Homo sapiens: one gene and its partners. The protein of the gene in region 1 interacts with the protein of each later gene in a pairwise test. Each region holds a gene or a part of one and is shown on either strand. Other genes may lie near its edges.

Region 1 (8,785 bases):
GAGGCAGGCCAGCAGGCTAGAAACTCACACAACATTTTTATGTTAGTCTTGCGGTAGAATTCCTTTTCCAGGAAACCTTAGTCTTTTCTCTTAACACCTTCAACTAACTGGATGAGGCCCATCCACATTATGGAGATTAAACTGCTTCCCTTAAAGTCAACTGATGGTAAATGTCAATCACAACTACAAAATACCTTCACAACAACATCTAGACTACTGTTTGACCACACGGCTGAGCACTATAGCCTAGACAAGTTGACACATAATACTAACCATCGCACATATCTTACACCATACAAAAATGTAACTCAAAATGAACCACAGACTTAAATGTCAAAATTATGGGTTTTTTTTTTTTCTGTAGGAGAAAACAAAAAAAAATTGTGTTACCTGAGGTTATGTCTTAGTAAGCTCAGGCTGCCCTAACAAAATGCCATGGACTGAGTAGCTGAAACAAAACAAATTTATTTTTTTTCACAGTTTTGAAGTATGGAAGTCCCAGATCAAGGACTGGCAGGGTTGGTTTCTGGTGACGGCCTTATTCCTGGCTTGTAGATAGCCCTTTCTCAATATATCCGTTCTTGGCCTTTCCTCTGTGCATGTGCAGAGAGAGAGAGAGAGAGAGAGCTAGTGCAGGCACACAAGTAATTTCTTCTGTCTCTTCTAACTGCTTATAACCATACTAATCCTATGGGATCAAGGCCCCACCCTTATGACCTCTTTTAATATTAATTACTTCCTTAGAGGCCTCATCTCCAAATGCAGACACCCCGGGGCTGAGGGCTTCAAAGTATGAATTTGGTGGAGGACATAAGCATTAGCAAAGAATGCACACATAGATTAATAAAACAGAATAGAGCTCAGAAATAGACCTGCACACTTATAGTCAGGTGATTCACAACAAAGGCAATAATGGTGAAAGTACAGTTTTTCCAGCAAAAGGTGCCTGAACAATTAGACATCTACAGGCAAATTATAATAACCTAGAAACATCCTTACATATTCCAGAAAAATTAACTCGATATAAATCACAGACCTAATGCAAAATGCAAAAACTATACAACCCTCTATAAGAAAACATAAGAGAAAATTCACATAACTTTGAGTTCAGTGGTGAGTTTTTAAATTCAACACCAAAAGCATGATCAATGAAAGAAAAATTTACCAAGTAGATTTTATTAAAATAAACATCATGTGCTCTTCAAAGGACAATGTTAAGAGAATGAAAACAGAAGCCACAGACTAGCAGAAAACATCGGTGGTACACATATGTGATAAAGAACATATCTCTACAACATACACGAATTCTTAAAGTTCAACGACAGAAAAAACATGAAAATAGGCAAAGATCTGAACACACTCCTCACAAAAGAAGATATACACATGGCAAATAAGCATAAAAAAGTACTGAGAATCCGTTCTCATTAGATAACTGTGTACTAAAATGAGATACCACTACACACCTATTAGAATGTCCAAAATCCATAAAAAAGCAAAAAAAAAAAAAAAAAGAAAAGAAAACCAAGATCAATTGCCAGGGAAGATGTGGAGCAACAGAAACTCTCATTCATTGCTGGTGGAAATGCAACATGGTACAGCCACTTTGGAAGACAATTTGGCGTTTTCTTAAAAAACTGAACACAGCATAAGATTCAGCAGTCATAATCAATTTACCCAATTGACGTGAAAACTTACGTCTACATAAAAATTTGTATACGATTGTATACAAAAGATTATTTCATAATCACCAAAAATAGAAGCATCCAAAATGTATTTCATTTGGTGGATGGATATATATATACACACGCACTATGGTACAACCAGACAATGATACTACTACTCCTCAATGAAAAGGAATAAGTTCTGAGCCACACAAAGTTATACATGACTCTTCAGTTCATTATGCTAGGTGAAAGAAACCAGTCTAAAAAGGCTACATAGTATGCGAGTCTATTTATATGACATTCAGGAAAAGGCAAAATTATAAAGATGAAACACCTATCAGTGGCAGCCAAGGGGGTTATCTGACAAGCACAGGGGATTTATCAGGGCAGTGAAACTAGTATGGTAATACTGTAATGGTGGATGCATGCTTGCTTTCATCTGAATATTTGTGTTCCCACAAACTTCATCTGCTGAAATACCAAGGTGATGGTATTAGGTAGAAGGTGGGGTATTTGGAGAATGACTAGTTCATGAGAGCAGAGTCCTCATGAATGGGATCAGTGTTTTTATAAAATAGACTCCACAGAGATCCCTTGCCCCTTCTTCCATGTGAGGACATAGGGGAAAGGCAACTGTCTATGAACTAGGGAGCAGGTCTCCATCAGACATGAAATCTGCCAGCACCTTGATCTTGGACTTCCCAACCTCTAGAATGTGAGAAATAAAGTTGTGTTGTTTATAAGCCACCCAGTCTACACTATTTTTGTTATGGAAGCCCAAAGGGACTAAGACAACGGCACGAGGCATTTGTCAAAACCCATAGATCTTTACAGCACAAAGAGTGAAGCTTAATGTATGTAAAGTCTAAAAGTAACTTAAGAAGTTGGAGAATCATGGGACAGAATGTAGAATGTTACACACACACACAAACCTAGCTGTATTATACATGTATGAAACCACTACAGTGAAGCAAGTGGCGGGAAAGTTACCATATTTGGGTACTCCATCAAAGAAATATGTTTTTTATAAAGTATAAGTCGGCCAGATAAGCATGTAAAATAGTTGAATATTTGATAATCATTTATATAATTTTTCAGATATGAAAACTATTGGGATTCTGTTTAATAAAACGTCCTTATCTTTTAAAAATGCATATTGAGTTATTTCGAGATGAAATGGTCTAATGCCTTAGATTCGCTCCACGTTATTCCAGAAGCTGATGTGCAGGTAGGCAAGTGTCTAACTGGAACCAGATTTGCTGTGTATTTAAAGTTGTTCATGCTGGGTATCTAGTATCCTGGGTTCATTACATTAGTTCCTATTATTCTGTATGTGTGAAGGCTTTCCCTAGTAAAACTTTTTTTATAATAAATATGCCATTAAAAGTGAAATCCTAAATGAAACTGACCACTTTGTAGAAATAAAATAAACCAGTAACCAAACTGATCCAAAAAGAAAAAGAAAACTTTAATTAAACTATAAAAACTGAAACTGTACAATGTTCAAAGCTCAAGCCACCTTCAAACATTCCAGGTTAGGCAGTATTGGAGGCCAATTCTACCAAATGATCAGGGAAAACTAACCACCATCTTATCTCATCTCTTCTAGAACATACAAAATATTTACAATTGTTCAATTCATTCTTCCAGACTAGCCCTCCTGGATTCAAAAACCAGATGAGGACCACATCCCACCCTTGATGGGAAAAAAAGCACACATTAAGTAAGCTCCCTTACATAGCAGCAAATATCCTACGTAAATTACTAGCATATTAAATAAACAGGCTCTGCCCAAGGAAATAACATACGGTTTAACATTAGGGGAAAAAAAAAAACGGTTTCATTGTAATTCCTTACATACAAAATGGAGGAGAAAAAAATTTGATTGCGTCAACGGGTACAGAAAAAGCTTTTTAAAGAAATTTAATATGAGTTCATGGTAAAAAAAAAAAAAAAAGTATTTAACCTATATTCAAAGAGAAATTGCACTTCCTAAAATCAACAGCAAACATACTTAAATGCAAAACGTTCGAATAATTATCATTCACGTCAGGAACGAGAAGTAGATGTAGGCTATTATCTCTACGATTGAAATCAGGATTGAGACACAAAGAGCTATAAGTACCAAAATGAGTAAGTGGTATGAATACTGGAAGAATATGTAATGTTTAGTGATAATACCATTATCGATCTTGAAAATTCAAAGGAAAAGGTATGTGGAATATTCAAGTGCATCGGCCTTCAGAACGAGGTGTGCAACAGATTACTACAGCAAAATCAAAATCTTCACCTCACGAAAGCAATAACTAACTACAACAATTAATAGACAATATGCCATTTGCAATAGCAACAAAATTCATGAATTGCCTGAAAAGAAGTCTAATAAAAATGTATAAGGTCTTTATAGAGACAACTGTCGAAGTATACTGACATATTCAGGTAAAAAAAACCTTGAAATACATAGAGGAGTATAATATATTCATTCATGGGGAGCACAACACTGTAAAAATGTAAACTCAGCTTAAATTATTTACAATTTAGTGCCTTACCTGTAGCCGCCGCCATTACAACAAATTTGGGCTGCTGTGCTCTGCTTCCCAAATCAAACCTGGAAAATTACAGAATGGAAACAGTAAATAAAAAACCAGTATCAGCAACAAAACAGGGAAAGCCCAGGGTGAGACTCAAGGCTGTGTTGAGCTGGTACTTGTGTTTGACACTTGCAGTGTTGGTTGGAGGGGGTTAGCAGCAGGGATGTTGGGGAGGTTTGTAGCCGGCCTACACGGTAGATGACAGAATGGGTAGAATAAAAGTTTGAAATTTTCCACTTCACTTCTTTGCACAATCTGAGGCAGCCTCTGAAAACACGATGCCAAGAGCCCTAGGTAATAGCAGGACACCAGGAAAATTTGGTTGGTTAAGGCAGTATGACTCCAGAGTTCTGCTAATAACAACCTGAAACCACCATAGTGGGAGAGGAATTACATTTTTTAAAAAAAAAAATTCTTTCAACAGAACACAAAGACTGAAATAGGAGGTCACTACAACCGCGGGAGCTGCCGCCCCGCCCTGCAGGGAGCACCTGGCCTGGGACCCGCAGGCATTCTCTACAAGGGGTGCAGCTGTGCAAATGCTCACAGGTGACAGAAACAGAGCATCTCCTGCCCATCACTTCATCCAACAGCCAGAGGTGACGAAAACGACCCTCCTGAGTGAGGACTGAGGGTCCACACCGCCCCCCCACCCCACACACCATAGAGGGACCACAGAATCCAGCTCAGCCCCTCTTGTCAGCCCTGGTAAACGCAGGCAGTGATGTCACCCAGACCACACCCCTTCCCCCAATGCCACTTCAGGGGGACTCAGAGTCAGAGACTTGGTCTGAGGGGAGCAGAAGCAATCTGCAGAGGATGGCGGTCCAGGCTCAGCCAGGCATCAACTTCAGGACCCTGAGGGATGACCGAAGGCCCCGCCCACCCACCCCCAACTCCCCCGACCCCACCAGGATCTACAGCCTCAGGACCCCCGTCCCAATCCTTACCCCTTGCCCCATCACCATCTTCATGCTTACCTCCACCCCCATCCGATCCCCATCCAGGCAGAATCCAGTTCCACCCCTGCCCGGAACCCAGGGTAGTACCGTTGCCAGGATGTGACGCCACTGACTTGCGCATTGGAGGTCAGAAGACCGCGAGATTCTCGCCCTGAGCAACGAGCGACGGCCTGACGTCGGCGGAGGGAAGCCGGCCCAGGCTCGGTGAGGAGGCAAGGTAAGACGCTGAGGGAGGACTGAGGCGGGCCTCACCTCAGACAGAGGGCCTCAAATAATCCAGTGCTGCCTCTGCTGCCGGGCCTGGGCCACCCCGCAGGGGAAGACTTCCAGGCTGGGTCGCCACTACCTCACCCCGCCGACCCCCGCCGCTTTAGCCACGGGGAACTCTGGGGACAGAGCTTAATGTGGCCAGGGCAGGGCTGGTTAGAAGAGGTCAGGGCCCACGCTGTGGCAGGAATCAAGGTCAGGACCCCGAGAGGGAACTGAGGGCAGCCTAACCACCACCCTCACCACCATTCCCGTCCCCCAACACCAACCCCACCCCCATCCCCCATTCCCCATTCCCATCCCCACCCCCACCCCTATCCTGGCAGAATCCGGGCTTTGCCCCTGGTATCAAGTCACGGAAGCTCCGGGAATGGCGGCCAGGCACGTGAGTCCTGAGGTTCACATCTACGGCTAAGGGAGGGAAGGGGTTCGGTATCGCGAGTATGGCCGTTGGGAGGCAGCGAAAGGGCCCAGGCCCTCCTGGAAGACAGTGGAGTCCTGAGGGGACCCAGCATGCCAGGACAGGGGGCCCACTGTACCCCTGTCTCAAACCGAGGCACCTTTTCATTCGGCTACGGGAATCCTAGGGATGCAGACCCACTTCAGCAGGGGGTTGGGGCCCAGCCCTGCGAGGAGTCATGGGGAGGAAGAAGAGGGAGGACTGAGGGGACCTTGGAGTCCAGATCAGTGGCAACCTTGGGCTGGGGGATGCTGGGCACAGTGGCCAAATGTGCTCTGTGCTCATTGCGCCTTCAGGGTGACCAGAGAGTTGAGGGCTGTGGTCTGAAGAGTGGGACTTCAGGTCAGCAGAGGGAGGAATCCCAGGATCTGCAGGGCCCAAGGTGTACCCCCAAGGGGCCCCTATGTGGTGGACAGATGCAGTGGTCCTAGGATCTGCCAAGCATCCAGGTGAAGAGACTGAGGGAGGATTGAGGGTACCCCTGGGACAGAATGCGGACTGGGGGCCCCATAAAAATCTGCCCTGCTCCTGCTGTTACCTCAGAGAGCCTGGGCAGGGCTGTCAGCTGAGGTCCCTCCATTATCCTAGGATCACTGATGTCAGGGAAGGGGAAGCCTTGGTCTGAGGGGACTGCACTCAGGGCAGTAGAGGGAGGCTCTCAGACCCTACTAGGAGTGGAGGTGAGGACCAAGCAGTCTCCTCACCCAGGGTACATGGACTTCAATAAATTTGGACATCTCTCGTTGTCCTTTCCGGGAGGACCTGGGAATGTATGGCCAGATGTGGGTCCCCTCATGTTTTTCTGTACCATATCAGGTATGTGAGTTCTTGACATGAGAGATTCTCAGGCCAGCAGAAGGGAGGGATTAGGTCCTATAAGGAGAAAGGTGAGGGCCCTGAGTGAGCACAGAGGGGATCCTCCACCCCAGTAGAGTGGGGACCTCACAGAGTCTGGCCAACCCTCCTGACAGTTCTGGGAATCCGTGGCTGCGTTTGCTGTCTGCACATTGGGGGCCCGTGGATTCCTCTCCCAGGAATCAGGAGCTCCAGGAACAAGGCAGTGAGGACTTGGTCTGAGGCAGTGTCCTCAGGTCACAGAGTAGAGGGGGCTCAGATAGTGCCAACGGTGAAGGTTTGCCTTGGATTCAAACCAAGGGCCCCACCTGCCCCAGAACACATGGACTCCAGAGCGCCTGGCCTCACCCTCAATACTTTCAGTCCTGCAGCCTCAGCATGTGCTGGCCGGATGTACCCTGAGGTGCCCTCTCACTTCCTCCTTCAGGTTCTGAGGGGACAGGCTGACGTGGAGGAACAGAGGCCCCCGGAGGAGCACTGAAGGAGAAGATCTGTAAGTAAGCCTTTGTTAGAGCCTCCAAGGTTCCATTCAGTACTCAGCTGAGGTCTCTCACATGCTCCCTCTCTCCCCAGGCCAGTGGGTCTCCATTGCCCAGCTCCTGCCCACACTCCCGCCTGTTGCCCTGACCAGAGTCATCATGCCTCTTGAGCAGAGGAGTCAGCACTGCAAGCCTGAAGAAGGCCTTGAGGCCCGAGGAGAGGCCCTGGGCCTGGTGGGTGCGCAGGCTCCTGCTACTGAGGAGCAGGAGGCTGCCTCCTCCTCTTCTACTCTAGTTGAAGTCACCCTGGGGGAGGTGCCTGCTGCCGAGTCACCAGATCCTCCCCAGAGTCCTCAGGGAGCCTCCAGCCTCCCCACTACCATGAACTACCCTCTCTGGAGCCAATCCTATGAGGACTCCAGCAACCAAGAAGAGGAGGGGCCAAGCACCTTCCCTGACCTGGAGTCTGAGTTCCAAGCAGCACTCAGTAGGAAGGTGGCCAAGTTGGTTCATTTTCTGCTCCTCAAGTATCGAGCCAGGGAGCCGGTCACAAAGGCAGAAATGCTGGGGAGTGTCGTCGGAAATTGGCAGTACTTCTTTCCTGTGATCTTCAGCAAAGCTTCCGATTCCTTGCAGCTGGTCTTTGGCATCGAGCTGATGGAAGTGGACCCCATCGGCCACGTGTACATCTTTGCCACCTGCCTGGGCCTCTCCTACGATGGCCTGCTGGGTGACAATCAGATCATGCCCAAGACAGGCTTCCTGATAATCATCCTGGCCATAATCGCAAAAGAGGGCGACTGTGCCCCTGAGGAGAAAATCTGGGAGGAGCTGAGTGTGTTAGAGGTGTTTGAGGGGAGGGAAGACAGTATCTTCGGGGATCCCAAGAAGCTGCTCACCCAATATTTCGTGCAGGAAAACTACCTGGAGTACCGGCAGGTCCCCGGCAGTGATCCTGCATGCTATGAGTTCCTGTGGGGTCCAAGGGCCCTCATTGAAACCAGCTATGTGAAAGTCCTGCACCATATGGTAAAGATCAGTGGAGGACCTCGCATTTCCTACCCACTCCTGCATGAGTGGGCTTTGAGAGAGGGGGAAGAGTGAGTCTGAGCACGAGTTGCAGCCAGGGCCAGTGGGAGGGGGTTTGGGCCAGTGCACCTTCCGGGGCCCCATCCCTTAGTTTCCACTGCCTCCTGTGACGTGAGGCCCATTCTTCACTCTTTGAAGCGAGCAGTCAGCATTCTTAGTAGTGGGTTTCTGTTCTGTTGGATGACTTTGAGATTATTCTTTGTTTCCTGTTGGAGTTGTTCAAATGTTCCTTTTAACGGATGGTTGAATGAGCGTCAGCATCCAGGTTTATGAATGACAGTAGTCACACATAGTGCTGTTTATATAGTTTAGGAGTAAGAGTCTTGTTTTTTATTCAGATTGGGAAATCCATTCCATTTTGTGAATTGTGACATAATAATAGCAGTGGTAAAAGTATTTGCTTAAAATTGTGAGCGAA
Region 2 (7,991 bases), on another chromosome or scaffold:
CTCAGCCAGGCATTGTGGCTCACGCCTGTAATCCCAGCACTTTGTGAAGCTGAGGCAGGTGGATCACCTGAGGCCAGGAGTTTGAGACCAGCCTGGCCAACATGGTGAAACCTCATCTCTACTAAAAATACAAAATTAGCCGAGCATGGTGGCACATGCTTGTAATCCCAGCTACTTGGGAGGCTGAGGCAAGAGAATCGCTTGAACCCAGGAAGTGGAGGTTGCAGTGAGCCGAGATCGTGCCATTGCACTCCAGCCTGGGCAACAAGAGCGAAACTCCATCTTAAAAAAAAAAAAAAAAAAAAAAAGATTATCATTATTTCTCATCAAAAAGAGATGTCACTTATTTGTTCAGGAAGTAGATGACCTGGCTTCTCTTCCTTACCTATGCACTCTTTTGCAATCTCTTGAAGTATAAAAGAACTTCTCTGCAAGGCAGGTAAGACAGTTTCCTAGGCCAGCTCCCAGTTTCTGCCAGGCTTTTGCCTCAGCACCATTGATGCAGCATGAACCTAGGGCTGTGCTGATAAATGCTTAACAACTCCCTGCAGAGGGACAAAAACAGTTTGAAGGAATTGCCCAATTCCATGGTGTCAACATTCTCACGATGGGTAATTTCAGGCTACCACGATATGATGATACCATGATGAATGTGGAGATGGGAAGAGGTGATCAATAGCACACCACTGTAGAGTGTTTCCTCTATATGGATAAAGTAGAAATCAGCTCAAGAGAATAGGTACTAATACAATAAGTAAAACAGTTAGAAAGTGATGAGTTTGGAGTATCTGTTACCTTTGTTTTTATTTTTATTTTTTTTAGAGGCAGTCTCTCTCTGTCACCCAGGCTGGAGTGCAGTGGTGCAATCTTGGCTCACTGCAGCCTCCACCTCCTGGGTTCAAGTGATTCTCCTGCCTCAGCCTCCCAAGTAGCTGAGATTACAGACACCTGCCACCACGCCCGGCTAATTTTTGTACATTAGTAGAGATGGGGTTTCGCCATGTTGGTCAGACTGGTCTCGAGCCCCTGACCTCAAATGATCTGCCCACCTTAGCCTCCCAAAGTGCTGAGATTACAGGCATGAGCCACGGCGCCCAGCCTGTTACCTTTGTTGTTACACAATGTATTTATGAACGAGGGGTGACTCCTCAGAGTCTGCTCAGGGAGACAACGCAGAGTGGCAACAGGGCTGTTGTGGAGGGGTTGTGGGGGGGACTGCTGCTGCCTGTCAGAGAAAGTTCTCTAGAGGAAGAGGTATTGGAAATAGATCTTGAAGAACATGCTGGAGTTAACCAGGCACGGAAAAGGAAGACAGATCATTCAAGGCCGAGGGGGCCTGGAGGAATGACCCGAGGAAAAGGCCATGACCTGAAAGGAGCTCTCCCTATGGGTGGCTGGAACGTGGCAGGGAAGGCTGCCATGGGGGACTGGGTGCCTGAGGAGGGGCTGGACCATATTGCAAGAGGGGAAAAGGGAGATGGTGAAAAGAGATAGGAGCCCCACCACGAGAAGGGCAGCTAGACTACAGAGGAGACCTCAGCGCCATTCTGTGAGGGAGACACTAGACTGAAGGGGAGGTGTCAAGACCATCCTGTCGTGGGTACTAGACTGCAGAGGAGGGTTCAGGGCCATCCTGGGAGAGGGGGAAGAGCCTGCAGAGGAGGCCTTAGGGCCATCCTTTGAGGCAAGGGAGGACTAGACTGTGCATGAGGCGCCATGGCCATCCTGTGAGAAGGGCAACAAGGCCATACTGTGAGAGTCTGTAACTGTTGTGGGGGAGGCCAGGCTCTTCCCCGTAAGCAGGGCAGCCATCAGAGGGTTTAAGCAGGGTGTGATGAGGTCAGAGAGAAGTTTGAGAAAGATCACTCTGGAGGCTTACAGGAATAAAGAGATTGCAACCTGGCTCAGTGCTCCCCAGCCTCCTACCATTAATCCTTCCTGAGAACCTGCCGCTGGATGAGTTTTCACTGTCCTACAAAGCCCATAGCACCCATGGATCCAGAAGGCCAGGCTTTAGAATGGTGCCAGCCTAGCAGCCTCGTACTCGTCATAAAATTGCTAAAAATACAGATTCTCAGGCCCCACTTCTAGCGATCTGACTCAGTACATCAGGGGTAGGGCCAAGGATCTGTTGTATTTTTAAAATATGATTCCCCATCTGACTTTGACGCCCAGGCAGGATAGAACTGAGGTCTGGGGAGGGGCTTAGCAAACCTGGGCAGTGCTGCCCACACAAAGAGGAATCAAAGTAAATACCACATTTCCATGAACAGACAGTTCTCCTTGGAGGTGGGGATGGAGTTAATCCAGCCTCCTTTAGCTCAGAGAGATGTGGGACAGGCGGTCTGATAGCATGGGGAGAACATGGAAGCTGGAGTCCCTCGGATCCCGTGTTCGTCAGTATAGGACGGTCTTAGGCCAGCCACCCTCTGGCCCTCAGTTTTCTCGTCTGGCAGGGTTGGGTGGGGGTCAGGGGGCTAGAAGGACACATAGGTAGGAGAATTCTGTTGTGTAACTGTTGCTGTACCCTGTGTTGCAGGCTATGAATCCAGGGCCTGCAGTGACTCAGAGGAGTCCTCTGAGGTGGACTGCGTACTCGAACCTCTCTCTGACAGGCGCCTGGTGAAACTGGCACCCTGCAGATCACTCATAAAGGAGGAGCAGCCTCCTGGGAACAGCCCCACACCTGAGGTGGCTAGGAGGGGCCCCAGCACCTGCGGGGCCAGCAGCACGACAGACAGTGCCGAGTCCGAGGCGTCCGACTCAGCCAACACTGAGAGCCGCGGCTACAGGACCAGTGGCTCGAGTGAGTCCATGGACGCTCTGGAAGAGGATGACTTAGACACCTGCTCCTCCAGCAGGTCCACCTTCTTCCACTTTGGCTCGCCAGGCCTCGCAGAGAGCATTGACTCTGACAGCCAGGAGGAGAGAAGCGGGATTGAAACCAGTGGCTTCCTCTGTCTCCTGGACCTGGCCCAGAGAGCCAACCCCCAGTGCCAGAAGACAGAGTTTTCCGAGAGTGCTGCTTTGGAGACATTTGGCTGGGCACCAGAACTGAGCACAGTCAGGCTGGACCCCAGGCTGTATGAAGGCAGCCACGCTGACTACTACAGCCTGTGTTCCAGTGTCTCCCCGGCCAGCTACCTGAGTGACAGTTCCGAGAGTACAGCTTCCCGGCAAGGGGGAGCCCCGCCAGCCTGGGGTCAGCAGGGCTGGACTGAGGCCCAGCCCAGTTCCATGCTGGAACCCCTGGCCCTGCACCCACCACTGGCCTTTGAGGATGGCAGCTCAGATGAGGAATACTATGACGCGGCTGATAAGCTCACTCCCCCAGGCCCCCCGTCAGGTGAGCCGTCCCTTGCAGGTCTGCAGACACGGCAGGCAGCTCCTGAGTGCCTCCCGGGGATCAAGGCCTGGGGCCAAGCTTGAGAGGAAGGCACATGAGTGAAACAGGGTCCCTGTACACTTCTGAGGAGGTAGATACAGATTCCATGGACCAAATTTTAGGCATCGTGGCAGGCCTGCAAGGGAGGTTCAGACAACTGTGGCAAGCAGATGGGAGGGATTCATCCAACAGTGGGAATCAGGGAAGGCTTCCCAGAAGAGGGGGCAAATGGGCTGGGCCCTGTGGGAGGGACAGAATTTACAAAAAAGGAAAGGGCTTGACAGGAGTGCCCGGCAGAGCGAAGTGGCTATGTCATCACTGATCCTGAGGCTGCATTAAAGGAGGCCTTGAAGCAAGAAGAACCAGACAGACAGGCCGTCTGTGGCCCTGCAAGGCCTTCTGGGGTCCAAGGGACCCTGACATCAGAAGGTAGGGGATCTGGTGGCTGTGTTTCTATCAGGTTCCTCATACATTCCTCCACCGAGAGTGTGGAGGGTCTTTCCAAGCAGAACTGAGATCCTGGCAGGACACACACACACACACACACACACACACACACACACACACACTGCATTCTGAAGGAAACATATTGGAAAAGAGCACATGGATGTTGAAGGTGACCTGCCAGGAGCTGGGAGAGCTGCAGCCCTTGTTCCTGTCTCGGCACTTTCCTGCTGCTCTCTGATCCTCTATTCCCAGACCTCCTGTGCTCTCCCACTGTTCTGGAGAGAAAGGCCAGCTCCTCTGGGAGCCCCATCAGGCCCTTTGAGGCCCTCTGTGACATGGCCTCTGCCTGTCTCTCTCCCTCCTCCTGCATTCCTGCCATACAGACCTCCTTGCCACTTTCTACAAGTGCCTGTTTTTTCCCCCTCCTCCAGCCTTTGCACATGCTGCTCTTTCTGACCGAAACACTCCTCCCCAGATCGTGGCTGATGGTGCCCATCCGTCTATCAGATTCCGGTTGGAATTCACTTCCTCAGAGAACATTTCCCAGGCTTCCCAGGCCAGGGCAAGTCTCCCCATCTCTGTCACATGTTCTTGCATTACCTGGGGCTCTCCCTGTCTGGCACCTCGCACAGCCTGTAAATTACATATTTACTTGTATGATTCTGTGTTGATGTTTCTCTCCATCACTAGACCGAGAACTCCTTTGAGCGTTAGAACTGTGTGTTTCTCACTGTGTCCCCAGCACACAGCGTCTAGCAATTGTTGTTAAATGAATGAATGAAGTCTCCACCATCTACACTGAGTTCAATTGACTGTACCTCTAAGGAAAGGAGAAACCATGGCCAGACTCCTTACTGCTCCCCAAAGTACCCAGACAACCACTTTCCATGCCCCAGCCTTGCCCTGCAGGGCCAGCCATTGTGCCGGGGGGCAGGATGGAAGTGTGGCAGAAACCATCAGTCAGGGCCCTTTTATGGGAGTCTAGTCAGGAACATATGGGGTTCATACCAGACACTGTTTTGTTTTTGTTTTTGTTTTTTATAGGGAGCCAGTGTAGTGCTGAGAAAAGAGCCAGAACTAGGATTCCTCAGCCTGGGTTCTGATTTGGCCCCTGACTGACTATTGGAGCCTCTTTGTCTTTGGGACTTAGAAACTCCTTGGTCGGTGGCTGTCAGTAGCCTAGGGCAGTCAAATGTGACTGGGCATCAGAATCACCTGAGGGACCTTGTTTAAAAACTATAGATTTGGCCGGGCGCAGTGGTTCACACTTGTAATCCCAGCACTTTGGGAGGCAGAAGCAGGCAGATCACCTGAGGTTGGGAGTTTGAGACTAGCCTGGCCAACATGGCAAAACCCCATCTTTACTAAAAGTACAAAAATTAGCCAGGCATGGTGGCGTGCACCTGTAATCCCAGCTACCCAGGAGGCTGAGGTAGGAGAATCACTGGAACCTGGGAGGCAGAGGCTGCAGTGAGCCGAGATTGCACCACTGAACTCTAGCCTGGCCAACAGAGCAAGATTCTGTCTCAAAAAACAAAAAACAAAAAAACCTAAACCTTATAGATCCCTAGGCCCTAGCCTCAGAGATTCTGACTCCTCAGAGATTGTGGGGAGCAGCCTAGGACTTGATAAGGTTTCTAATAGCATACAGCCAGGTTAGAAATGACTGGTCTGACTACCCAAGCTCTCTGATTCTCAAGTGCTAGGCTCTGATCCTAATTCCTTCTGGCTGATTCCCAAGGGTTCTTTACAATAGTGCCTCTCCTCCCAGAAAGATCCATCCTGGGATGCACAAAACTCGATGCCTGTGACAGAGTTGTGGCCCCTTTACATTCAGACATGAAATGGCAATAACGAGCAGCTTCCTTTTAGTGAATACCTAATGAGGCAGAGGCCTTGTGCTGGGTGCTTTATAAAAATGCACTAATTCCTTTAACCTGCACGGCAGCACTGAATGGCACCATTGGCACTAAAAGACTTGGGTTAACATCAGCACAAAGAAAAAGTGTTAGGAAGTAAGATTGTTTATAGAATTGCTGGCAAGCCTGAAGACCTGGGTTCAGAAATAGACAGCAACCAGGCTAAGAGTCTAGTCACAGGATTCCCTACCTGTATTATCAAGCTATTGTGGTTGGAAAGAATGGCTCTGCTTTTTTTTTTTTTTTTTTTTTTTTTTTTTTTTTTTTTTTAATGTCTTTGGGTTTGGAATTCTGGAGAATTTGTAGCTGATTGGCTGGCGTGGACAGAGCATCTTCGTGAACAGTTCCAGCAGACTCTAACCATTGGGGAGATGTCATTCCCTAAACAGAAGTTGAGATGCTGTGACCAAAAGATAATTAAATGGATCTTAGGCATCCAAAAATTTAATAATGTCTATCACAGCTGGGTGCAGTGGCTCAATCCTATAATCCAAGCACCTTGGGAGGCTGAGGTGGGAGGATTGCTTGAACTCAGGAGTTCAAGGCTGCTGTGAGCCGTCACACCACTGCACTATAGCCTGGGGGACAGAGTGAGACCCTGTCTCAAAAAAAAAGAAAAAAAAAAGTCGGCCAGGCGCGGTGGCTCATGCCTGTAATCCCAGGCCTAGGTAGGCGGATCATTTGAGGTCAGGAGTTCGAGACCACCCTGACCAATATGGTGAAACCCCATCTCTACTAAAAATACAAAAATTAGCTGGGCATGGTGGCAGATGCCTGTAATCTCAGCTACTCCGGGGGGATGAGGCAGGAGAATTGCTTGAACCTGGGAGGCAGAGGTTGCAGTGAGCCGAGATCACGCCACTGCACTCCAGCCTGGGTGACAGAAAGAGACTCCGTCTCAAAAAAATAAAAAAAAATCTGTCACAATTATTATCCCCATCTTTCAGATGAGGAAGTTGAGGAGATCAGGATTGAACTTGCTCAAGGTTACACAGCCTAGCCAGAATTTAAACCCAGGAAAGCCCAAGGCCTGAGCCCAAGCTCTATTAACCTCTTTTTTTTGTGCTTTTTAATGTATTTTTTCTTTCCTGACTCCCAGGGCCCAGAGATGTTTCTACTGCAGAACCCAGTGCCACAAGCTTGCAGAATAAGGCCAGCACTTCTAGCCCTGAGAACAGCCTGCCTTGTGGGCCAGATGGAAGACAGCCAAGCAGGAGGGGAGGGGTGAAGAAATATGCCAAGACCCTGAGGAAAAGAAGGTCTTTCCTACAGACCGACTACACCTCTCAGGTCTCATTTCCCCTGGTGCCATCAGCCTCCCTGGAGAGTGTAGACGACGTGTGCTACTATGACAGGGAGCCCTACCTGGCCCTTGGTGCACCCTCCCCAACTGTGTCCTCTCTGCAGGACATGCAGGGTGAGCCTGGCCTTCTGGAGACCAAGGCCTTGGGGCTGCTGGCTCCTCTGAGGGAGACCAAGAGCACAAACCCAGCCTCCAGGGTCATGGAGATGGAGCCCGAGACCATGGAAACCAAATCAGTCATCGACTCTCGAGTGTCTTCTATTTCTGCCATTCGCTTCCGGATTGACCCCAACAATAAAGAGAATTCTGGTGTTGTCCCTGCTGCCAGCTCCTCAGCAAGCACTCCTCACTGTTCTAACCCAGGTTCATCTGGCCCAGATACTGCTCAGGCAAGGCCTTCCCAAATCTTACCTCTATCTCAAGACCTGGATGGGATTGCCCCCAAAGAACCAACCATAGAGCATGGAGACAGCTCCTTCTCCCTCTCCAGTGGTGACCCTAACCCAGACAGAGCCTGCCTGGCCAGCAACCCAGGACTAAATAATGTCTCTCAAGGAGACACACTAGAGCTCCAGTTGGAGCCCCATGTCCAGTTGGAAATGGGATTGGAATCTTTTTGTACAAATCATATACAAGAAACTGCCCCCAAATACACAGAGCCTTTGTTGTCTCCTAGAGATGAGCCTAGAAGTGATGAATGTGGAATAAATCCAGGAGAGAAGATAGCTTCTATCCCTACAAAGGAAGAGCCACAAGGACAACTATCTCTGGAAAGAGACAGAGAAGTTACAAACAAAAATGGCACCAACGTATTTCAGGAGGAGTCTAGGAAGGATTCAGGTGACTCCCCGGGTGATGTGTCAAATAATGTTTCACAGACTCTTGATATTAGCTCTCCAGCTGGTAAAATAGTAACCTCCCTTTCTTTAGATGCTCC
Region 3 (4,895 bases), on another chromosome or scaffold:
TCAGATAATTTACTTTTATTTTTCAAAACTACAGTCATCTCCAGTGAAAACTAAAGAATGGGCACATTTTGAGGTAGCTACATTATTCTTTCAATTAACAGTTCCATGATTAGAAGAAATTTATCTTTAGTTTTTTCAATATACATAATTTTACTTTATGTAACACTTTTCAAGCTCACCTGATTTCTTTTGCAGAATACTGCAAGTTAAAGGTCAGTGGATAGAAAGGCAAGCATCTTGCATACTTTGCAATCTACCTAGTATGAAGCCATTTGCGGGGAGATGGATTTTTTCCCCAATGGGAAGATATTTAATACACATTAAACTTAACTTTAGAAGAAACTTGACACTTTTGACACATTGATTTAATTATGCGGTTGAAATGGCAGGATTTAAAGGGGAATTGAAGTATATAGTTGCAAATACTCATCCAGCATTACATTTGGAGATGGGGGTTGGCTAAGTCAGTTTAACATATTTTGAAGCCTTGATAGTTTCATCTGTTAAAAAAAAAGTGTGTTACATAATCTCTAAGGAACATTCTAGTTTCACACTCTATAGGATAAGCTTCAGTAACATTATCAGTGTGTTTTGAATATGGAAAAGATGCTTCTTAAAGCCTAGATTTCAGCTAAATTGCTTTTGCAAACCCAGATAGTTCCTGGACCCTAAGATTTGGAAGCTTTGGGATGAAAAGTTTAATTTCACAGACCAGTTCCTCAGTGCATTATTTTTTCTAGAATAACAACTTCTATTTTAATGACAGAAAAGCCAGCCATTTTCATCCATTCCCTGCTCTCACACCCAGCATCCCCAAACTCTCCAGTTGGTGATTGTTCAGCCTTTATCTTCCTGTTTTTCTCTTTCATTATTTCATTTTATATATACAGCACTGGCTTAAAAAATATACTAAACAGGTACATGTGTATGCTCTTAGAGGTGTAAATTGGCACAGTCTTTCTTGAAAGCAAACAGGCAATATATTACAAAGTTTTAGAAGTATGTATATACTTTTGAGGGCCCATTTTCACTTCTAGGACTATAACCTAAGGGAGTAAGTAAGTAAAAGTGCAAAGATGTAAATGTATATTAAAGGATATTCAAAATAGAGCTTGTATATTAAAATCCAAAACTAAAATATCCAACTTCAGAGGTGTTGAGTGGTTCCATGCAGTATTTATTCACTTGGGAAGGTACTTATCTTCTATTACTTGAAATTTTCTTCTAATTCTTTTCTATAATGAACATAAATTACATTCCTAACAAAGTAAATGTACCATTGGCTAAATATATTGATTTACTTTTTTCTTTTGGTCATGTGCCCACTATCAGAATCATGGATATTTTAAATTTATTCTGAAAAAAATTAATCCATGAAACTATTTAGCTCCTTAGCTACAGTAACTGTTATTGAAATGTGGTTAAGAATGGACATGTTCAGCTCTCAAAAGAGATTCACATTGAAAAAAAATAGCTTACTGAGCTAAAACAATTATAAGTGACAGAAGTACCTTTTTTTTTAAGGTTCAGAAAACGCAAATTATGTGTCTTCAGAATTTCCAAATAGTTACTTCTTAAACTATGAAGGTCCAGAGAAACGATTTACTGCAGCAAACACGTTTAATAAGAATACAAAATTCACACTAGAGGCACATTCTGGGGAATGTAAATGAACTATCACAAGTAGTAATTCTGCTGGAAGAATAAAATAAGGCTCTCTGAGTACAAATATACAGGAAGGAATGATTTAAAATAGGTATGATTTACAATCACATTACATTGTATTAAGCACTCAAAACAGGCATATTAATTAAAAAGCCAGCTAAAAGGCATTTGAACATATATAACAAATCTTACAGTCCACAAAGTTCATGTATAACGGTAATTTTAAGTACTTCATTTCAACACAGAAGAAATGAACAGGTGAGGGATGCCTCTCAAAATATTAATTTATGTCTATGACAAAAACTAAAAGAGCTTTACATTGAAAATGGATTACACTACTGATAGAACCATGTAGTGGACAGGGCAACCACATTAAAACAAAACCAACAGTGCCGAGCAACTAAAACAGTACTGGCCTTTCCAATCCTCTTTCTTCCTGGTACCACCACACTGTCCCAAATTACCTCTTCATTACCCAAATCAAAGAATCTTTCTGTTTTCCCAATCCTCAAAAGGAATGAAGAAAAACCAAAGAGCAAACTCAAAAGATGATTTTTACCATAAACCTCAAATGTGGCTTAACAAGTACAAAGAAACCCAACATTCATACATAGTGCTCCATTCCATGGAAGGAATAGACACATCAAACATTATCCAACAGGGGTTTCTTTATGGATTTTGTACATTGGTTGAACAAGAATTACTGTATCTGAGAAGGCACATATCTGTGATTTAAGGCTTAAACGGTATTGTTACATATGGAAGTCAATAAAAGCTGTCTATGTATTCACTTCTATCAAAATGGAACTGACCCAAAAACTAGTTTTCTAAGTACAGATTTCTACTCCAGAAACCATTAAGAATTTCCATTCCCACGTCCACCTGTCAAAAAAAAAAATTCTCTTAAGCAGGTTTTGTTATGAACCAAAAGAAATTGCAAATGTAACTGTCCAATGACTTCGGGTGAAGCAAATTCATAAGCTTAAAAGCCTCACAGAAATGACAGTGTGATTTCTGTGTCTTTAAAAAAAAGTCTAAATAAAATTACAGTGGTACAGATTCATTTTTAAAAAGGTATTTGCCACAACTCCACAAGCTAATCATTCATTAGAGCTGCTGCCTCTGTGTGGACGCTGCAGGAACACCATATAACTTTACTCTGCAAAATAGTTTCTTTTTTCTTTAATACATGAAAATGAATCTCTTAAAGATGTTTAATATATTCACATATAAAATATCTGATGTTGATACAAATCATGTAAACCTCCCTTTGGAAAAGTTACAATCGGCCCTCATTTCCAGGACCAAAAACCTTGAATTTTTATCTTGTCAGTGCAAATCTCTATTAGATGTTTTCAAACTACAGAAATAGCCATCAACCCTCACAATACAAAAGGATTTCTCAAAAAGGAAAATTATTGTGTTCAGATTATAGAAACTATGTTTACATTAAAACCACCCTTAACAGTTCAATTGTTAAAGTATGAAAAAGGGAAAAATTAAAGCTGTTTGTGCAAGAATCACTATAATGCTTGTCACCCCTCCCACTTCCCCCAACTCTGCTTAATTCTTGTTAGGTTGGTTTAGAAATATAACAACGCGACTTTCTTTTTATTTTCCGCTGTGATTTTACTGTTCTTCAAGCCAAGATGGGGCATCCACTCCAGGGGTTTTCAATTTGATATGGAACTGTTTAAGTGTCTGTTCAAGCTGCTTCTGATTCCCAGCAAAGTAAGCGGCAATGGCATTGTGGAAAAGGACCAGCTGATTGTGCAATACTTTAACCTGTGGACAGGGCAGAGTTACAAGACCAAGCATTAACACCAATAACAATAAAATAGAGAGTGATTTATTACATTCCTTAATTAAATAGTGTATCTCTCTTGAAGAAAAGCTGGCTTAATAATGACCAAGTATTTCACACATACCAAGTGTACACTGCCTTGCAGGGTCACTGAACCTTTGATGACTTTTTAATTACCCTAAAGAGAATAGGTCAGTTTTAAGATGCCCAAATATATACCCTATTAACCATTTTCAAACATTATTGAGAGGATTAATTAAAAATATCATTAAATCCTCCTCAAACTAAGTACATTCAAAATCATGTGAGATATCAAAAAGGGAAAATTATATATAATTGCTACACAATGTATGAATAGTAAATATGGACATCATTAAATCTAAGCTTTATGTAAGCCAAGTAGGCTGGATACTTTTAAATATTGACTTTCTTTGTAAAGAATCAAGCAAGTAGCAAGTGTTGCTCAGAAAATCAATTTACTTAACGCTCATATGACTCTCAATTATTTTCAACTGCTTATTACTTCTGCTGATATCAAGAGTATATTTTAACCAAGTCATACTACCTCTATAAGTCTTTCTTAAAGAAATAAACAATGCATCAAAAAGATTTATAAACTGTTTCCTGAGGTTGTTTTTCTTTTGTTTTGTTTTGTTTTTTGAGACAGAGTCTTGCTCTGTCACCCAGGCTGTTATGCAGTGGCACAATCTTGGCTCACTGCAACCTCTGCCTCCAGGGTTCAAGTGATTCTCATGTCTTGGCCTCCCGAGTAGCTGGGATTACAAGTGTGCACCACCATGCCCAGCTAATTTTTGTATTTTTGGTAGAGATGGGGTTTCACCATGTTGGCCAGGCTGGTCTCAAACTCCTGACCTCAGGTGATCTGCCTGCCTCAGCCTCCCAAAGTGCTGGGATTACAGGCGTAAGCCACCAAGCCCGGACATCTGAGGTCTTATTTACAACTGCAAAATGTTAAATAAGAATTCTGATTCCCATCCAATATGACATTCATTAAAATTGAACTTTAATAATAAATGATGTAAAAATATTTGAAACACGATGCTAAATGAAAAAACAGGATAGAAAATTTGTTTCACTATATTACACACACACACACACACACACACACACACACACACACACACACACACACTTCTCTCTAGCCATTTCTGAAAATGATTTCCAAAACTGAGCTGGTCTCGGTCACCTCTGCCATTGTGACTGAGTCTCAGATCTCTTCTGTAGAACAGGTTGTCAGGGACAGGTCTAGGGAGCGCTTCAAGGGCAATCTGCCCTGACAGAGGGTAGAAAAATCACTGTATGATGTTATATGTGAAAGAATTTCTTAAGTAAGGCTTATAAAACCCATAAATTATAAAGAAAAAGATTGATAATTAAACTGCATTAAAATTTAGAATTTCTTTTC
Region 4 (7,991 bases), on another chromosome or scaffold:
GCCCCACCACCAACGTTGGGGATTATATTCATTCAACATGAGATTTGGAGGGGGACACATCGAAACCATATCAGGCTGTATACTTGGAGCCCTGCAACCACACAGCATCCCATGAACATGACCCAAAATGGGAAGCAATCAAGGGCCGCTTGTGAAACCAGCTTTTTCTATGACCCAGAAGGCACTGCCTCACCTCATATGATCGAATTATAGACATCATCGTCGCAGTACCATAAATGAGCAGAAACGTCACTTAACCAGGTCCCAGCTGATGGGGTGTTAAGAAAACAGAGTTCTCTTCTACCCTTGTCTGGGTTGGTCCTACTAAAAAACTCTCAAGACCCTAGGCAATGTGATTTTCAGATTAACTGAGCTAGAGCGTTCATTTTAAAGTTAATGTTTTTTTCTTAATAGTTTTCACAGTGTACAGACAGAATTAAAGACCTGGAGAAACAGTTCGTAAAGCCTGATGGTGAGAATAGAGCTCGCTTCCTTCCAGGGAAAGATCTGACCGAAAAAGAAATGATCCAAAAATTAGACAAGGTAAACATTATTGCTTAAAATTGCATCTGTTAGCTCCTCGTTGATGTAGTTTCACAGATACCTATGGTACTGTTTCATGTTATGCTGACAGACCTATCCTTCATTATTCTAGTCACTAATATAGTCCTTTTGTTGTAATCTAGTCATACATTCTAAGCTTGATTTAGACACTTGCCAAAAGAAGTTCCAATCCAGTGGTTTCGAGATTCCAAAGGCACATTTCTCTCATGACCCAAAGGAGTAATTTTGGCATCTTAAATGGATTAATTTGTCTTCCTGATGGGAGCACATCAGAAGAATGGTGATGTGGATGTTAGATAGAGCTGAGGGGGCCATACTCGAACTCCCAGAGGTATCTGCAGGGGCTGGGGCAGGGAAAGTCTTAACCCAGCTCTAAACACTTTCCAGAGGTATTTTGTGGGGGGTAGGGGGAGATACTGCTCTAATTAGGAAATAAGATTTTGTCTTAGATGACTTTTTTTTTATTCCTCTTGAACCAATTTTCAAACATAGCTGGAACTACAACTGGCCAAGAAGGAGGAGAAGCTGCTGGAGAAGGATTTCATCTATGAGCAGGTCTCCAGGCTCACAGACAGGCTCTGCAGCAAAACTCAGGGCTGCAAGCAGGACACACTGCTCTTAGCCAAGAAGGTAGGCCTGAGACCCTGCCTTTTCCCTTCTGCCCCTGCTCCTTTATTACCTTTTATTTTCCACAGACCGACAGATTTATTGAGAGAAGCACTGGAGAGATTAGGCTTTATGACTAGGGGAACTTAGAAAAACGAAAGGATGACTCAGAGAATTGTCCAAAATGTTTCAATCTTATTCCCTGAATTAATTCACTTCACGGTGGCAAAACCTAGGCTTTTAAATGACACTATACAAGTTTCACTTACCAAGGCAACTACCCAAATATGACAGTTATTATCTTTGTATTTCATGCACAAAGTTAAATCCTTTTTAGTTCCTTTTAAGTGGAGCGCCTCACTTATCCAGTGATCTTAGTAGGGACTGCTCCAATCCAGAACTCAGCCAGAACCCAGAAATTGAAAGGGACTGATAAAGAGAAATGCAGTCACACAACACCCAGACCAACTGCACCATGGAGGTGCCCACCAGGCACCACTAGTGAGGAAAGGCCAGGAATACAGAACCCCCTAATTTAATAAGCGTAAGAGACCAGGACAGCAGATCCAGAGCCTCAGGGTCAGGGTGGGACTGCTAGAAGCTGCACTGAAAGGAGCAGCCAGCAGAGCCCCTAGAAGTCCCCCTGGACTCCCAGCATGTTGCATGCTAGTTACCCTGGTCTCTGTAACAACCTGCAATGAAGAGGTGAAGGCTGTCTATTAGTTCGTTTGCATTGCTGTAAAGGAATACCTGAGGCTGGGTAACTGATAAAGAAAAGAGGTTTATTTTGGCTCATGGTTCTGCAGGCTGTGCAGGAAGCATGGTGCCTGCAGGTCTTGCCAGGCTTCCTGTGGCTCTGACTCCTGCTTCCAACAAAGGTTCATTTGGGGAATTGCCCCATCAGCCTGTACACCCATTTCTGGGTCATGTCCGTGCAGGCACGGGACTCACTCCTTCCTCAGTCTACCCCTACACAAGACCATTCATGCGAGGCCTTTCATGCATACCATAGAGCCATCAGAGGACTGGCCACTCACCTGGCCTCTGGGTTCCCTGGAGCATCCCGTCAATGCAGAGAGTTCAGCCAGTCAACAGTAATTACTGAACACCTGCTATGTGCTACTCTCATGCTAGGCATGAGTTCAGAAACAAAGAGGAAGGGACACATTGTTTACACCATAGGAAGCTCATAGGGTCTAGTAGGGGGAGACAGATGAAAACAGATAATGGTAATACCCACACCAGAGACTGTGGGCTCCTGAGGGCAGCAGCTGTTCCTCGTTCTTAATTTCTCCAATGCCTAGCATGTGCCAGACTCTAGAAAAACACTTCAAGGATGAGTAATCATCAGTTCTGTTCTAGAAGCACATGTGGAACACTAAACAAGAAATGATTGTAAATATTAGACTATCTTTGCCATTTTTATTTGACTATTATGCTTCTGCTCTGATGACTTCCATGACTAGACTGATCAGGCCAGTGGCAGGTGTGCAAATCACAACTTGGCCTCCCAAACTAAGGTACAAAGTTGTGAGTCACACGTCTGCCACTGGACTGATGCGAAGGCTCAGTTAAGCTCATGCACTTTGCCTGAATTAGCATGTCTGATATTTCTTTAAATAAACGTTGCCTTCCTTCCTTTTGCAAAATGAATTTCCCTTTCTTTGGGGGAAGTCATTTTTCACTGAGGCCTGACTTATCAAAGCTGATGGCAGAGTCGCCTGGAAGGCAACAGTAATGCTAAAGAAATGTACATAGCGGCCGCTTCCCATAGCCAGGAAAGCTCCAGCACAGCCGAGTCCTAGTCTAACAATTATTCTCCCCTTTCCTTTCCCTACCTTCCATGCTCTCCATTGGCTTCTTCCTCCTCCCCAGCTTTCACTGTCCCCACTCCATTTAAAATGATAATCTCATAGTAGGCAGAACTGGAAAGTAGAAAGACATTCAGATTCCAGATCTATGATTTATCAAAAGTAGAAAATGACCTTGAGAAAGATGGATAAATGATCTTAAAACTCAGTTTGCTCATCTGTGTAATGGGTGTGATAGCCAAAGTTGTTGCAAGTATTACATAGTCGAACACGTAAGTGACCTAGCCACATTCAAAAAGATTGCACATCTCCTCAAGTGTCTCACTTCTCCTAGATAGCTTATGGCGCCTCCTGCAAATTTCCCAACAGAAATGGGAGCAGAAAGTGGGAAATCTCAGTTAAGACTTGGAGCAACCCAGGATAATATGAAACTTTGTTTTCTAATTTATGGAAGAGAAGGGAAGTTGGCCAGTTACACAGATGGACACACACACTCGAGTGTGTAGTGGTTGCCATCCCATTACTGGGTATATACCCAAAGGATTATAAATCATGCTGCTATAAAGACACATGCACACGTATGTTTATTGCCACACTATTCACAATAGCAAAGACTTGGAACCAACCCAAATGTCCATCAATGATAGACTGGATTAAGCAAATGTGGTACATATACACCATGGAATACTATGCAGCCAAAAAAAGGATGAGTTCATGTCCTTTGTAGGGACATGGATGAAGCTGGAAACCATCATTCTCAGCAAACTATCACAAGGACAAAAAACCAAACACTGCATGTTCTCACTCATAGATGGGAACTGAACAATGAGAACACATGGACACATGAAGGGGAACACCGGGGCCTGTCATGGGGTGGGGGGAGGGATAGCATTAGGAGATATACCTAATGTAAATGATGAGTTAATGGGTGCAGCACACCAACATGGCACATGTATACATATGTAACAAATCTGCACGTTGTGCACATGTACCCTAGAACTTAAAGTATAATTTTAAAAAACAGATGAGAAAAAAGAAGAAAAAAAAAGTGTGCCGTGGTTGAGTGGAAAATGACTCCCCCCAAAGATAAGGAAATTCATTTAAAAAAGGAAAGGCAGCAACATTTAAAGAAACATAAGACATGCTAATTTACTCAAAGTGCATTAGCTTATCTAAGTCTTAGCATTTCTTATTTTATGAGTTAAAAGTTGTGAATTGCACCAATGCTGCTGGACTGTTCAGTCTGTTAGTGGAAGTTGTCAAAGCAGAAGCCTAGAAGTCAAATAAAAATGGCAAAACTTATGACTCACTGAAGTTTTTAGTGGTAGTCATTTTTATTTGATACATGCTGCTTAAAAATTAGTTCAGTATAGAAGAGTCATAAAAATGTATATTACCTACCATTAAGGAGGCAAAATTTGTGTATAATAATCAGTTATTACATTTTCAGAGGCAGGTAAATCACTAGCAGCAACATTTTTCTAAACAGAGGTACAGATGTGACCAGATATGCTCTGTTAGGAGAGGAAGGTATTCAGCATTAGTGTAGTATTTGGAAGCTCATTTGCATGTCCCAATTTATCCTGGTCCAAGAACAAAGAATGAAACAAACTAAGAGTTCATTCATTCCTTCATTCAGAAAATATTGAACTTTAATTTGGGGGGGTGCCTCTTATATTCCAAGCACTGTCCTGAGCACTGGGACTATGATGATGAATAAAACAAAAAGTCCTTGTCCTCATGAAGAGTACATTCTTATGGGATGACAAAAATAGTGAAATACATATATAATATCAGCAGTGAGACATGATGTGAACAAAAAATAAGGCAAGGTAAGAGGAACTAATGAGTGTTGCCAGGTAGAAGGTATCACCACTGAACTGCTCCACTATGGCTATCAGACTAAAAGAGTCTACCATTTATAAGACAGCTTACAGGAACCCCTAATTCCAGTTTTACTTCTTTCCTGACTCTTGAGATCTTTTTTTTCCAGTTAGTCTTATCTTTTAACTGTGTTAATGCTAAATAGCTGATATTAATAGGTTAAAAAAAAAAAAAGTCTGGTCGCAGTGGCTCATGCCTGTAATCCCAGCACTTTGGGAGGCCATGGCGGGTAGATTGCGTGAGCTCAGGAGTTCAAGACCTGCCTAGGCAACATGGTGAGACTCCATCTCTACAAAAAATACAAAAACAAATAGCCGGGTGTGATGGTGCACACCTGTGGTCCCAGCTACTTGGGAGGCTGAGGTGGGAGGATCACTTGAGCCTCAGGGGCAGAGGTTGCAGTGAGCTGAGATCACACCACTGTGCTCCAGCCTGAGTGACAGAGTGAGACCCTGTCTCAAAACAAACGAACAAAACAAAACACTCCAGGAACAGCTCTCATTCTAAATTATTGACTAAATATTCCCCAGCTCAGCTCATGCATGTTTCTGACCTAGTAATGATGCACACCAGGAATTATGATCAATAATGCCAACATGTCAATGTGATGGTTTTCATTTAAAAAGTCATTTCAGATGCAGAACTTCTGCTGATTATCTTATATAAGCAAAGAGTAACGTTAATTCTACCAGATTTTTTCCCCTGGATAAGTGACAAACTAATAACGTCAAATTAAACTAGAATTTAGGCATCAAGAACACTCTTGGCTGGGCACAGTGGATCATGCCTGTAATCCCAGCACTTTGGGAGGCCGAGGCAGGAAGACTGCTTGAGCCCAGGAGTTCAAAACTAGCCTTGTCAACACAGCAAGTCCCCATCGCTACAAAAATAATAAATTAGCCAACTATGGTGGTGCATGGCTATAGTCCTATCTACTTAGGAGGCTGAGGCAGGAGAATTGCTTGAGCCCCGGAGTTCCAGGCTGCAGTAAGCTATGATCACACTACTATATACCAGTGTGAGCAACAGAACAAGACCTTGTCTTTATTTTAATTTTTTTTTTTTTTTTTTTAAAGAACATCCCTGGCCAGGCGCGGTGGCTCACGCCTGTAATCCCAGCACTTAGGGAGGCTGAGGCAGGCGGATCACGAGGTCAGGAGATCAAGACCATCCTGGCTAACACGGTGAAACCCCAGCGCTAATAAAAATACAAAAAAAATTAGCCGGGTATGGTGTTGGGCACTTGTAGTCCCAGCTACTCGGGAGGCTGAGGCAGGAGAATGGCGTGAACCTGGGAGGCGGAGCTTGCAATGAGCTGAGATTGCGCTACTGCACTCCAGCCAGGGCGACAGAGCGAGACTCAGTCTCAAAAAAAAAAAAAAAAAAAGAACATCCCTTCACCTCTCCTTCTTACCTCTTAAAAATGGGCACTAAACTGTTCTCCTCAATGTTATTCACCTTGAAATCCAGTAACTAGATAAACAAATCCTTTTCTTGTTCTCTCCTTGTCCTTACTTACACAGCCAGGGTGTTCGGCTCAATATCTGCAGTCTCTTCCAGTTCTTAATTTCTGTGAATTCCAAGTTAGACCCTCCTTCCTTCAGACAAAAATGCACCCCGCCATTATAGACAGCCAGCAGCCTGCCATTTTAAGTCTTTGTGGACTGTATACATAGACTAAGCTTTGGGCTCTTTAATTCTAGATGAATGGCTATCAAAGAAGGATCAAAAATGCAACTGAGAAAATGATGGCTCTTGTTGCTGAGCTGTCCATGAAACAAGCCCTAACCATTGAACTCCAAAAGGAAGTCAGGGAGAAAGAAGACTTCATCTTCACTTGCAATTCCAGGATAGAAAAAGGTCTGCCACTCAATAAGGAAATTGAGAAAGAATGGTTGAAAGTCCTTCGAGATGAAGAAATGCACGCCTTGGCCATCGCTGAAAAGTCTCAGGTAGGCTTTGGCTCCTGTATTGCATTTCTAAAGGGTGCCAGCAGGGGTTGCATTCAGGCAACCCACAGTTATCCCACAGTATAAGAAAAATTTCCCCACTCTACCACACACAGTCCCAACAGTCGTTAGAAGTGTATTTAAGATATTCTATGATAAGTCAAAGTGCAGTAATCCAGAGTGCTACAATACTCACTGAAGAACACTTAGCAAGCACAGGGCCCACCCCATAGCCTTACATCCTGGGCTGCTGAGGCTGAACATCATGGCCTTCCACCAGCATAGCAATGACCAGGCTGGCACTGGCCTTGTCCATAAGTCTCCAATCTCTGTCTTGGCACCTCTGCTCAGACCACATCTGACTGTTCCATGTTCATCTCCTGTGGCCTCCACAGCATACAGTGAGGCCTCCACCCACATTTTAGGTGCCATGCCTTCTGCAGATGCTTGATGTACATCATAGGCCCCAGCGCCACCCCTTTCTTTTCCCACCTTAGGCCTCTGGCCTAAGACTAGGTCTATTGCTGACTCCCCCTGCAAGTTAGATAGCAGATCTTCTGTCTACCCCCATGACCTGTCAGTATTCTTAGACTGGAATTAGGCATCTCTTTCCAAGGAGTCTACATCCTCCAGATGTACAACTCACTCAGATTGCCAAGTGGGTATCACCGAAAGGGTCCCTATTTGCTCCTGAACTCAAGACAAAACTGCATTCAGAACACACTAGGAATACCTGAGCACAAGTGTAAATTACGTGATTTATAATTTCCACACCACCTGGGACTGTTCCTTTCAGGGCATTCAGATTTTACCTGTGGTGTCCCACTGCCATTTATTAGAGGGCTTTTCAGTGCAGTAAGTGATTACTCTATTTTCCAGAGGCACAGACAAAATCTTGAAAACGTTGAGGCTCAGGGCAAAGCTGGTGACCATTTTCCTCCTCTGGTTCCACTTTACTCCTCTACCTCTTCCATTGTAACTTTTGCTCACCAATGACTTACCAAAGGAAATATGTTGCTCTGCCTTTGTCAAAAACAGGGAAATAATTAGTGCTTGATGACAGATATTGAGGTGGAAACATAGTTAAGACCCACAAAGCAGTCTTTGAAAAACACTAAACTCCAGGATTAATGTGATGCTTAAGCAATACAGCCCATTCCAATGAGGTGTGGGGGTG

What was found.
Region 2: the proteins of MAGEA6 (region 1) and FRMPD1 interact in binary tests that used the Homo sapiens proteins (3 or more experiments, as listed by UniProt).
Region 3: the proteins of MAGEA6 (region 1) and ARFIP1 interact in binary tests that used the Homo sapiens proteins (3 or more experiments, as listed by UniProt).
Region 4: the proteins of MAGEA6 (region 1) and CCDC146 interact in binary tests that used the Homo sapiens proteins (3 or more experiments, as listed by UniProt).

Annotation. Positions count from the first base shown.
Region 1 is NC_000023.11:152,766,303-152,775,087, reverse strand, and holds the start of MAGEA6 (melanoma-associated antigen 6), read left to right. Parts: upstream 1-5,398; 5' UTR 5,399-5,434; intron 5,435-7,162; exon of another isoform or gene 7,163-7,226; 5' UTR 7,227-7,292; intron 7,293-7,372; 5' UTR 7,373-7,437; coding exon 7,438-8,382; 3' UTR 8,383-8,785. UniProt on the Homo sapiens protein: Activator of ubiquitin ligase activity of RING-type zinc finger-containing E3 ubiquitin-protein ligases that acts as a repressor of autophagy. May enhance ubiquitin ligase activity of TRIM28 and stimulate p53/TP53 ubiquitination by TRIM28.
Region 2 is NC_000009.12:37,737,539-37,745,529, forward strand, and holds part of FRMPD1 (FERM and PDZ domain-containing protein 1), read left to right. Parts: intron 1-2,539; coding exon 2,540-3,346; exon of another isoform or gene 3,347-3,814; intron 3,815-6,850; coding exon 6,851-7,991. UniProt on the Homo sapiens protein: Stabilizes membrane-bound GPSM1, and thereby promotes its interaction with GNAI1.
Region 3 is NC_000004.12:152,908,619-152,913,513, reverse strand, and holds the end of ARFIP1 (arfaptin-1), read right to left. Parts: intron 3,451-4,895; coding exon 3,295-3,450; 3' UTR 1,157-3,294; downstream 1-1,156. UniProt on the Homo sapiens protein: Plays a role in controlling biogenesis of secretory granules at the trans-Golgi network. Mechanistically, binds ARF-GTP at the neck of a growing secretory granule precursor and forms a protective scaffold.
Region 4 is NC_000007.14:77,286,384-77,294,374, forward strand, and holds part of CCDC146 (coiled-coil domain-containing protein 146), read left to right. Parts: intron 1-414; coding exon 415-543; intron 544-1,056; coding exon 1,057-1,194; intron 1,195-6,568; coding exon 6,569-6,817; intron 6,818-7,991. UniProt on the Homo sapiens protein: Essential for sperm flagellum biogenesis and male fertility.